3 separate regions of the Homo sapiens genome follow, and all the other regions are linked to region 1. The links come from fine-mapping of genetic effects on gene expression. A gene starts in region 1. Each other region holds a variant in brackets. All regions are shown on one strand. Distances are between the middles of the regions. Region 1 holds the start of KBTBD11 (kelch repeat and BTB domain containing 11). Region 2 overlaps KBTBD11 (kelch repeat and BTB domain containing 11). Region 3 has its middle 33 kb from the start of MYOM2.

Evidence for each region. PIP is the estimated chance that this variant, and not a neighbour inherited with it, causes the effect.
Region 2: its variant is fine-mapped to the expression of KBTBD11 in whole blood (TOPMed, PIP above 0.99).
Region 3: its variant is fine-mapped to the expression of KBTBD11 in skeletal muscle (GTEx, PIP above 0.99).

The regions. Positions count from the first base shown.
Region 1 is chr8:1,972,486-1,975,288 of GRCh38, reverse strand. It overlaps KBTBD11 (kelch repeat and BTB domain containing 11), which reads right to left and starts at 1,612. Exons shown (of 2, transcript NM_014867.3): 1 at 1,354-1,612. KBTBD11-AS1 (KBTBD11 antisense RNA 1) reads left to right here and starts at 1,944. Exons shown (of 3, transcript NR_136275.1): 1 at 1,944-2,141; 2 at 2,626-2,749. All of the region lies in intron 2 of KBTBD11-OT1 (KBTBD11 overlapping transcript 1), which reads right to left.
Region 2 is chr8:2,004,674-2,007,476 of GRCh38, reverse strand. KBTBD11 (kelch repeat and BTB domain containing 11) reads right to left here. Exons shown (of 2, transcript NM_014867.3): 2 at 541-2,803. Among named protein-coding and RNA genes, the nearest start is that of KBTBD11, 32 kb to the right of the region's middle. The variant G/C (reference allele first, on the strand shown) is at 1,220.
Region 3 is chr8:2,010,975-2,013,616 of GRCh38, reverse strand. No RefSeq gene overlaps it. Among named protein-coding and RNA genes, the nearest start is that of MYOM2, 33 kb to the left of the region's middle. The variant T/C (reference allele first, on the strand shown) is at 1,583.

The DNA of each region.
Region 1 (2,803 bases):
GTCCAATGCTATGGCCAGCAATGCCTGTGCAACTGACATGGAAAGTTCAAAGGCTTTACCTCATTACAATTTTTACTTAGTTATGCCCTGATGGGAGCATTGCAATGCCAGTTACCATAAATCTGCACACACGAGGTTGTTGCTGGAGCAAATCTGAAGGCAATGGAACGCTCCCTTCCGTGATGTCAGGAATGGGGAGGATTATTCTAATAATAGCACACTATTAGCTCAGGATAAAAGGCTGAAGGGTTCCATTGACATCCATTAAGGGGTCCTAATTGGAGCCTGAGTAACTGCTCCTTAGTGGGAAATGGAGGCGGGAACCGCGGGGAATCGGGCGAACTTCTCACTCAGGGCCTGAGGGGATGGCTGGAACTTTAAAATCTGACGGCGGCGCCTTTCGTGGGCTGAGTAGAATAAAGCTCGCTGCACTGATTTGTTCCTTTTCTTTTCCTTAGAATAGACACTGGAGTGGGTGGAGGGGGAAACGTGGTTTTGTAGGACTCTAAAGAGGTGGAGGGACTTTGGTTCACCCTCTTTTCATGCTCCAGAATGAGCCCCGCCTGAGAGGAGGGACCCCTGCGGAATCCCGCCCAGACCGCCCGGGGGTCTCCCCAGCACATGGGGCGGGGGCTGCAAGGGGCGCCCGGCAGGACTCGGGAGCCGCGGCGCGGTGGGGCGGGTGGGTCGCGGTGCTCGGGGCTCGCGGGGGTCAGCAGCCAGGACACCCCCGCACCCCGGGCGCAGCGGCGGAGGACCAAGGGCCGCGCTCCCCTCCCCAGGGCCCCGAGTCCAGGAGAGACCCCCGTTCGCTCCGGACAGCCGATCCCCGCGACCGCCGAGAGCCAAGCGGAGCAACCCCGGGAGGAGCCCCCGCCCTGGCCCCGCGCGCTTGGCTTCGGCTTCTGCTCCTGCTTCCGTGCCGGCTGGGGCGGCGGGACCCTCGGCGGGGGCGGTGACTGCGGGCGCGGCGCGGGCGGCTCATTGTCTTCCGGCCGGGGTTGCCGCGTCCCGGGGGAGGGCCTGTGGAGACCCCGCGAGGAGGCCCCCACGCCCCCCACGCGGCCTCCCGGAGGCGGAGCGGAGACCACCCACCGCCGCCCACCCCGCCGCGGGCAGCGCTGCCCCCTCCTCTCCCGGTCCCCCCTCCCCTCCCCTCCGCTCCGCTCCCCTCCCTCCCCTGCCGGCCTCCCCTCCCCGCCTCTCCCCTGCCGGCCTCCCCTTTTCTCCCCTCCCGCCTACTGCCGCTCTCGCCGACCACCTCCCACCCGCCGCCCCCTCCGACCCGCGCCTCGGGCTGCTTCCCGCTCCGCCCGCCAGGCCCCGCCGCTGCCTCCCCGGGGTCCGCCCTACCTCGCCGCGGCTCCTCTTCAGCCGCCGGGCCCGGGACGCGCAGCCAGGCGGGTGGGCTCCGGCGCATGCGCGCGGCCGCTTCCCGGCACCTGTGGGAGCCGCGGCCCGGCCTCTCCGAGCACCTGCGAGCGGGAGCTGCTCCTCCGACCCGCAGCGGGGCGTGGGCGGCAGAGGGGGCGGTGGACAGGCCTCTCCGCCTCTCCAGGCCGCGCGGAGCCAGCGCTCCGGCTCCAGGCTGCGAGGGGCGCGCGCGGGGCGCGGGGAGGGGGGCGGGCGCGTGCACACGGGGCGTTTTCGGGCGCGCGCCCCCTGGCTGGGTCTGCGGAGGGGCTGTGGGTTCCCCGGGGCTTCCCTGCCCCGCGCCTGCCCGCCGGGCGCTTCTCCCCCTCCAGGACCGCGGCCCACGTCGCCACTCGAGCCCGAGCCCGAGCCCGCGCCCACGCGCGGGGGCCGCTTCCTGCGAGGAGGCGGGGACAGGTGTCCGCGGGCGCAAACAGCGGAGTTTCGTGCGCCTATTTTTTGGTAAAAGTAGAGGCGATGCGTTGTTGACATATTTAGTGGTTAAAAACTTATTGCCAAATTCTCAACAGATTCCAGAATTTTTTAAAGTTCACAACACGAGAGTGGACGAAATGTCGGAGCTTTTGCTCATATCCAGAAATGTGGCCTCTGCCTCCCACTCGGGCCCTGCGGTGCAGACGGGTTCAGGGCGGCGAGGACTGAGCCAGGAGCGCCGAGAGTTCCAGCTGCTCCCAGGCTGGGTTCTAATTAACGCTGGACCCCTGCTGGTAAATGCTATTTTTAATGGCTTTGTGCAAATTAATGACGATGAGATTTCCATAAGTACCGAGAGCCAGAGCCTTTACTTTCTCTTTTTGTGTTCTTTTTGCTTGTGACAGTCTTTGCCAGTTCCATGCTGTATACACATAATGAGCCGTTACAACTCCAGCACCAAAGCTAACGCCCCGGGAACATCTTTAAAACCTTTTTCACTCTGTTGCCAAGAAGAGTAGTACCTGCTGTCAGTACTTGAATTACAGGAGGCTGAAACTCAGCGAGCTACTGGGATTTTTTGAAAATTGAAAACTTCCGTTAACTATAGCAGAAACAGACCCTTTTGGTGGAAGCTAAAATAATTCCCATGCTGCTCCGTTTTTATTTTGTTCAGTTTACTCCAAAAATGTTCCAAACTCTACTGTGATCTTCTTAGTGCATCTCTACTTCCTTTCGGCTGCAGAATAATACTTCTTTTTCTCTTTTGTTTTTTTTTAGAGATGGAGTCTCACTCTGTCGCCCAGGCTGGAATGCAGTGGTGCAATCTCGGCTCACTGCGATCTCTGCGTCCTGGGTTCAAGCAATTCTCCTGCCTCAGCCTCCCAAGTAGCTGTGACTACAGGCATGCACCACCACACCCAGCTAAATTTTGTATTTTTAGTAGAGACAGGGTTTC
Region 2 (2,803 bases), 32 kb before region 1:
GCTTGGCTGGGAGCTCATGGCCAGACCAACTGGCCGCAGTCCACACCCCCAAGCCCTCCTCAGCTACTCTCACACACAAGCCCTGCCCTGTATCACCCCTGGGCCCGGTACCAGGCAACTGGAGACCACCGTGATAGCACAAAGCCCACTGGAAGGACACAAACCAGTGCAGCGAAGCAGCTCCCCCAACCTGCCTTCCCTAGGAACCAAAGTCTAGGCGCTGGCCTCGGCTTCCACCTGCTCCTGTGCAGCCCATCCTGGTGTTCCCGAGGTCCTAGGTGGTGTGCCGTGATCCCCCGCTGGGACCCGTGAGCAGACCGAGGAATCCAGGGCACCTGGGAGTGGGAACAGACACCCCAACTTAGAACCTCTGTGCCAGGGGAGCTTCAGGAGCCGGTGAGGGCAGTTCCTCACTTAACGGGCAGGACGTGTCAACCCTGGGTCCCGCAGGCAGAGCTACGCTCCCTGATTCACAGGAGAAAAAGCCGCATCTGACGCTCGCTGTGGAGAAAGAGAAAAGCACTCGGGGCACATCAGGAGGACTGGCACTTTCTGCGTGATTTATTTCATCTCGGCATGAACTGACAAACATACGAGGCTCTGCACTATTTATGCCCAGGATTTTAAAAGTCAAGCATTAATAAATACATTAACTACACAGATCACAACAGCTGCCCTGAACTTGGCCTTCAACAGGTGTAGTTTACCTTTAATAAATGGTAACATTTGAGAATCGCTTAGAGCTTGAACAGGCTTTGGAGGAGCTTTGATCTCACATGAGAACCCGTCTCCTGTTTCATATGCGTTCAATCCAAATCCATCCACTTGGCGTGTCTGAAGCTCCTGCCAGCACAGTGTCTGTGCCGGGTGCCCGAAGGCTGCACAGTCCAGGCTTCCTCCCGGATGTGGAAAACGTGGAAATGATGTGGCCACTGAAAGAAATTCAAGACAACTGAAACAACTGCAGATTTCCATTTTCAGCTCGTGTTTTCTTATGAACAATAACATTGCAGAAGGGGAAATATCAGAAAGTTGATTGATTTTTAACCCAAAAACAGAACTTTTTGTAAGCTAGGAAAGCATCTAAAATTAACAAGAATACAAAAATGCACTTTTGTTTACATTTGCTCTATTTAGATCTTACAAGAGATTATGTCTTGAATCTATCCTGACTTCAGCAAAAGACAAAAGAACGTTGAAAACATCCTATTTCCAAATC[G/C]TTTACAGGAAGTTACCTAAGAGACTGACAGATTCAACGGCTGCTACCAGAATTACTGAAGTGACACCAGAAATTAGCAGAAACAGAGCAGATGATTAATTTCTTACTTATTTGTAGCCAAACTTATACAGTCACGAGTTTTAGTTAAGTAGCCAAAGAATTTCCACAACATTCATTTTCTTACAGCAGAAGTCGGTGCCTCCACAGACTCAGAAACCAAATCCCGAAGTTCCAAATCCAGCTCTACAAAGCTGCAGGAAGCAGTGCGGAGTGGAGGGATGTTCCCAAGAGGAAGAATAAAACCGGAAGGAAAAGGAGGAAGGCTCAAGCTCATTCCTCTGCATCTCAAATGAACCTTGATTGGCAATACAGAAGGGATTGCTGTCAACTAAGCAAAAGGTCAGGCTTCCATGCATAACATTTTCCCCAAAAGACACCACTGCCTTTTCAGACATTTGGAAAGGCCCCTGCGTATGGGTTAATTTCACGAGTCAGACATTTGGAAATGCCCCGGCATACGGGTTAATTTCATGAGGAGTGTGGACAGCTGTCATCAAGGCAATAGCCTCATCTAACTATTTTAATGGGTGGATGACCAGGAATATTTTTGCACCAACCTTTTTCCTACACAGTGTTGGACGCAGACTTAGAACACCACTTTGAATTGGAAAAGGTCCTACCTGGGGCATCAGCCGTTGCCAGGCAGTCTCAGCAATGCCTCTGCCCTCCCTGCAGCAGTCCCAAAATGAAAGCCACACCTTGGAGGGTGTGGCTTTTCTCTGTTTCATGGGTGCAAACCCTAGCGGCTCCACACCCCAGGGACTGGCCCCCAAAAAGCAAAAACACTGCTCATGGCGTGGCAGGTCCTCTAGTATGTATTTTTATGTGATATCACTATTCAGAACTGTGGTGTATACTATTCTATAAATTTCCACAATAGGTTGGCCGGACATCCTTTAATGGTGGGTATTAATTCCTCTTATTCTTTACGTTTCTTAGTGCATTTTGTTGTGAGGTGACAGGGAGCACCTGGGGCTTTGCTGCCGGGCCCCACAGGAAGCTGTGCTACATCTAGTGTGAGCATTCCTTCACTAAATGAAACGCTGGAAAGCCATGGGAACCGCACAGGACTGTGCAACCACCCCCATCCAACATCCACCACTTCTCATATCCTTTTCCGGGGACAGTGTTACTCTGGAAGCCTAATTTCAATATTTCATTTTCAAACAATAAACATTACAGGAATGATTTCACAAGTAAAATCACAGTGATAACAGCATATGAGTTTGATATTTAAGGACTGAAAATATTAGCCTGGTCCTGGTCCCATTTCATATAAAAATTTCTACCATTAATAAAATTCTAGAGGAAAAGGCAGGACAGTGTGAATGGTACATTGCTTAAAATGAACATTATTTGTTTCCTTTTGCTGTAAATACTGTTTCTACAACCATTTCTCCAGTATACTCCTATAAAAGGCCAATCAAGTCAGGCGATATGAAGTCTGTTTTTCTTTCCCAAGATGATTAACCAAGTTGCCAAGCTATCCCCTCAGTTCATGAGTAACCATGGGCAAGCAGACAC
Region 3 (2,642 bases), 38 kb before region 1:
AAGGCCAGTATTGCCCTGATACCAAAATCAGACAAAGACACATCAAAAAAAAGAAACTACAGGCCAGTATCCCCAATGAACATTGATGCAAAAATCCTCAACAAAATACTAGCAAGCCAAATTGAATAATATATTAAAAAGACATTCAACATGACTAAAGGGGATTTATCCCAGGGATGCAAGGATGGTTTGTGATAGGCAAATCAATCAATGTGATATATCATTCAACAGAATGAAGGGCAACAAGCATCTGATCATTTCAATTGATGCTTGAAAAGCATTTGATAAAATTCAACATTCTTCATGATAACAACTCTCAAAAAACTGGGTATAGATGGAAAATATCTCAACACAATAAAAGCGGAACACAATAAATGTGGAAAAACTGAAAGCCTTTCTCTGAAGATCTGGAACACGACAAAGATTCCCAATTTTTTTTGGTTTTTTGAGATGGATTCTCACTCTGTTACCCAGGCTGGAGTACAATGGTGCAATCTCAGCTCACTGCAACCTCTGCCTCCTAGGTTCAAATAATTCTCCTGCCTCAACCTCCCAAGTAGCTTGCCCACTGCCATGCCTGGCTAAGTTTTGTATTTTTAATAGAAATGGGGTTTCACCATGTTGGCCAGGCTGGTCTCAAACTCCTGACCTCAAATGATCCACCCTCTTCGACCTCCCAAAGTGGTGGAATTACAGGCATAAGCCACCACACCTGGCTAAGGATGACCACTTTCACCATTATTATTCAACATACTACTGAAGGTCCTTTCCTAGAGAAAGAAATAAAGGACATCCACAATGGAATGCAAAAAGTCAAATTCTCATTGTTTGCAGATGATATGATCTTACAATTGAGCTCTGGCAATGATGCAGCCGATCCATGTCATTACACATTTGTCCAACCCCATGGAACTCACAACACCAAGAGTGAGCCCTTATGTAAACTGTGTACTCTGGCTGGTGATGAGCTGTAGGTTCATTGATGTAAAAACGCCCCACTCTGGCAAGGGTGTTTACAGTGGGGTTTACACTATATGTGTTGGGGGCAGGCGACTTACGGCAACTCTGAACCTTCCTCTAAATTTAGCTGTGAGCCTAAAACTTGTCTGAAAAATAAAATCTTCTTTGGCTCATGATCAAAGAATGCTAAAAAGAATTTGATGTTTTATGATCTGCAGTTAATATCATAATACTATTATCAACCTCCCGCCCTTAAGACTTTACCAAGCACAAAACTGGATGCCGAAAGTAAACACTGCTCTGCGTTCCGGACCCCCAGCTGCCATTTTCCTTCCCTCTCCTCCTGTCACTGGCTCGTCGCGGGACAACCTACTGTGTCCCTGTGGCCACCGCATTTCTGCTCTTAATCATCTGCTTTGTGAGCCTAGAAATGACAGTCGTGCATGTGAGAACGATACTTAGATTACAAACAAAGATGACGTGAGAACACAGGATGTTTGTGTGGCTTCTTGGAGCTGGGGACATCTGTTCCAGCAGCTAGAGGCTTGCTTCTCTGTGTCCTTACGGGCTCCTGGCTGCGAGTAAGTATTAGAGGACTCGGTGCCGCTCTTGCAGGCTGGAC[T/C]CCCCTCCGCTTTATTTTACTATGAGCTCATCGCCTCTGTCACTCTCTGTAAGCGTCTTAAGCGTGGGTGTCCCACTTTACGGAGTCATAAATCCTCTCACAGTGATTCACACAGGGACCTCACCTCAAGTACATTTTGAACTAGAAAGCTAAATTTGTGACAGGCAAAGTTACAAGAAGGAGATTTCAGCCAGATTTTTTTTTTTTTTGAGACAGAGTCTCACTCTGTAGCCCAGGCTGGAGGGCAGTGGTGCAATGTCAACTCACTGCAACCTCCACCCCCCAGGTTCAAACGATTCTCCTGCCTCAGCCCCCTGAGTAGCTGGGATTACAGGTGCGCACTTGCACCTGTCAGGATGGGCGGCTGAGGTCCTCAGGTGCTACGGAGTCTCTGCTTCCTCAGCCCACCGTGGCTTGGTCAGGCTGTTCACATTGCAGTTCCTGGGAACTGTTTGGGATTCTCTTACTGTAAGAGGGTTTGTTTTCAATGCCTAAATGCCTTCTTTTATCCTACATGGGGTTTGTGACAAGCCACAGTCTCTTCGGGGTGATCCAAGTTAATAGCCACAAGTATCTTTGCCAGGAGAGCGTGTGGGGAGGACACCAACCACCTGGCGAGCTCCACACGGACAGCGATCCTAAACGTGCTTAGATTCAGCCACCTGCTGGGAGGTCCTACAATAGCGTTTTTAACAGCGTGGCAATGCGAGCACTCACCTCTGAATTCCCTGTTGAAATGCACATCTCTGGCTGCATCCGGGATATAGCACGTGAGAATCTCTCATGTCAGGACACAGAATCCCTGTGTTTAAGGAGTAGCTGCAGTGACTCTTCCGGGCCCAGAGGCTGGACTCTGCCATGGCTATCTCCACACAGCCGTCTCATTAGCACTCTGGGGACTGCTCTGATTCAGATTTTAGGAACATGAAACTAAGAACGTTGATGAGGCTTAGTGGCGTGTCCCAGACTATACAGACAGCAGAAAACAGAGCTGCAATAATGAACTGTGAGCGACCGCCAGCGTTTTACCTACTGAGTCACAACCATTAGTGAGGAGCGT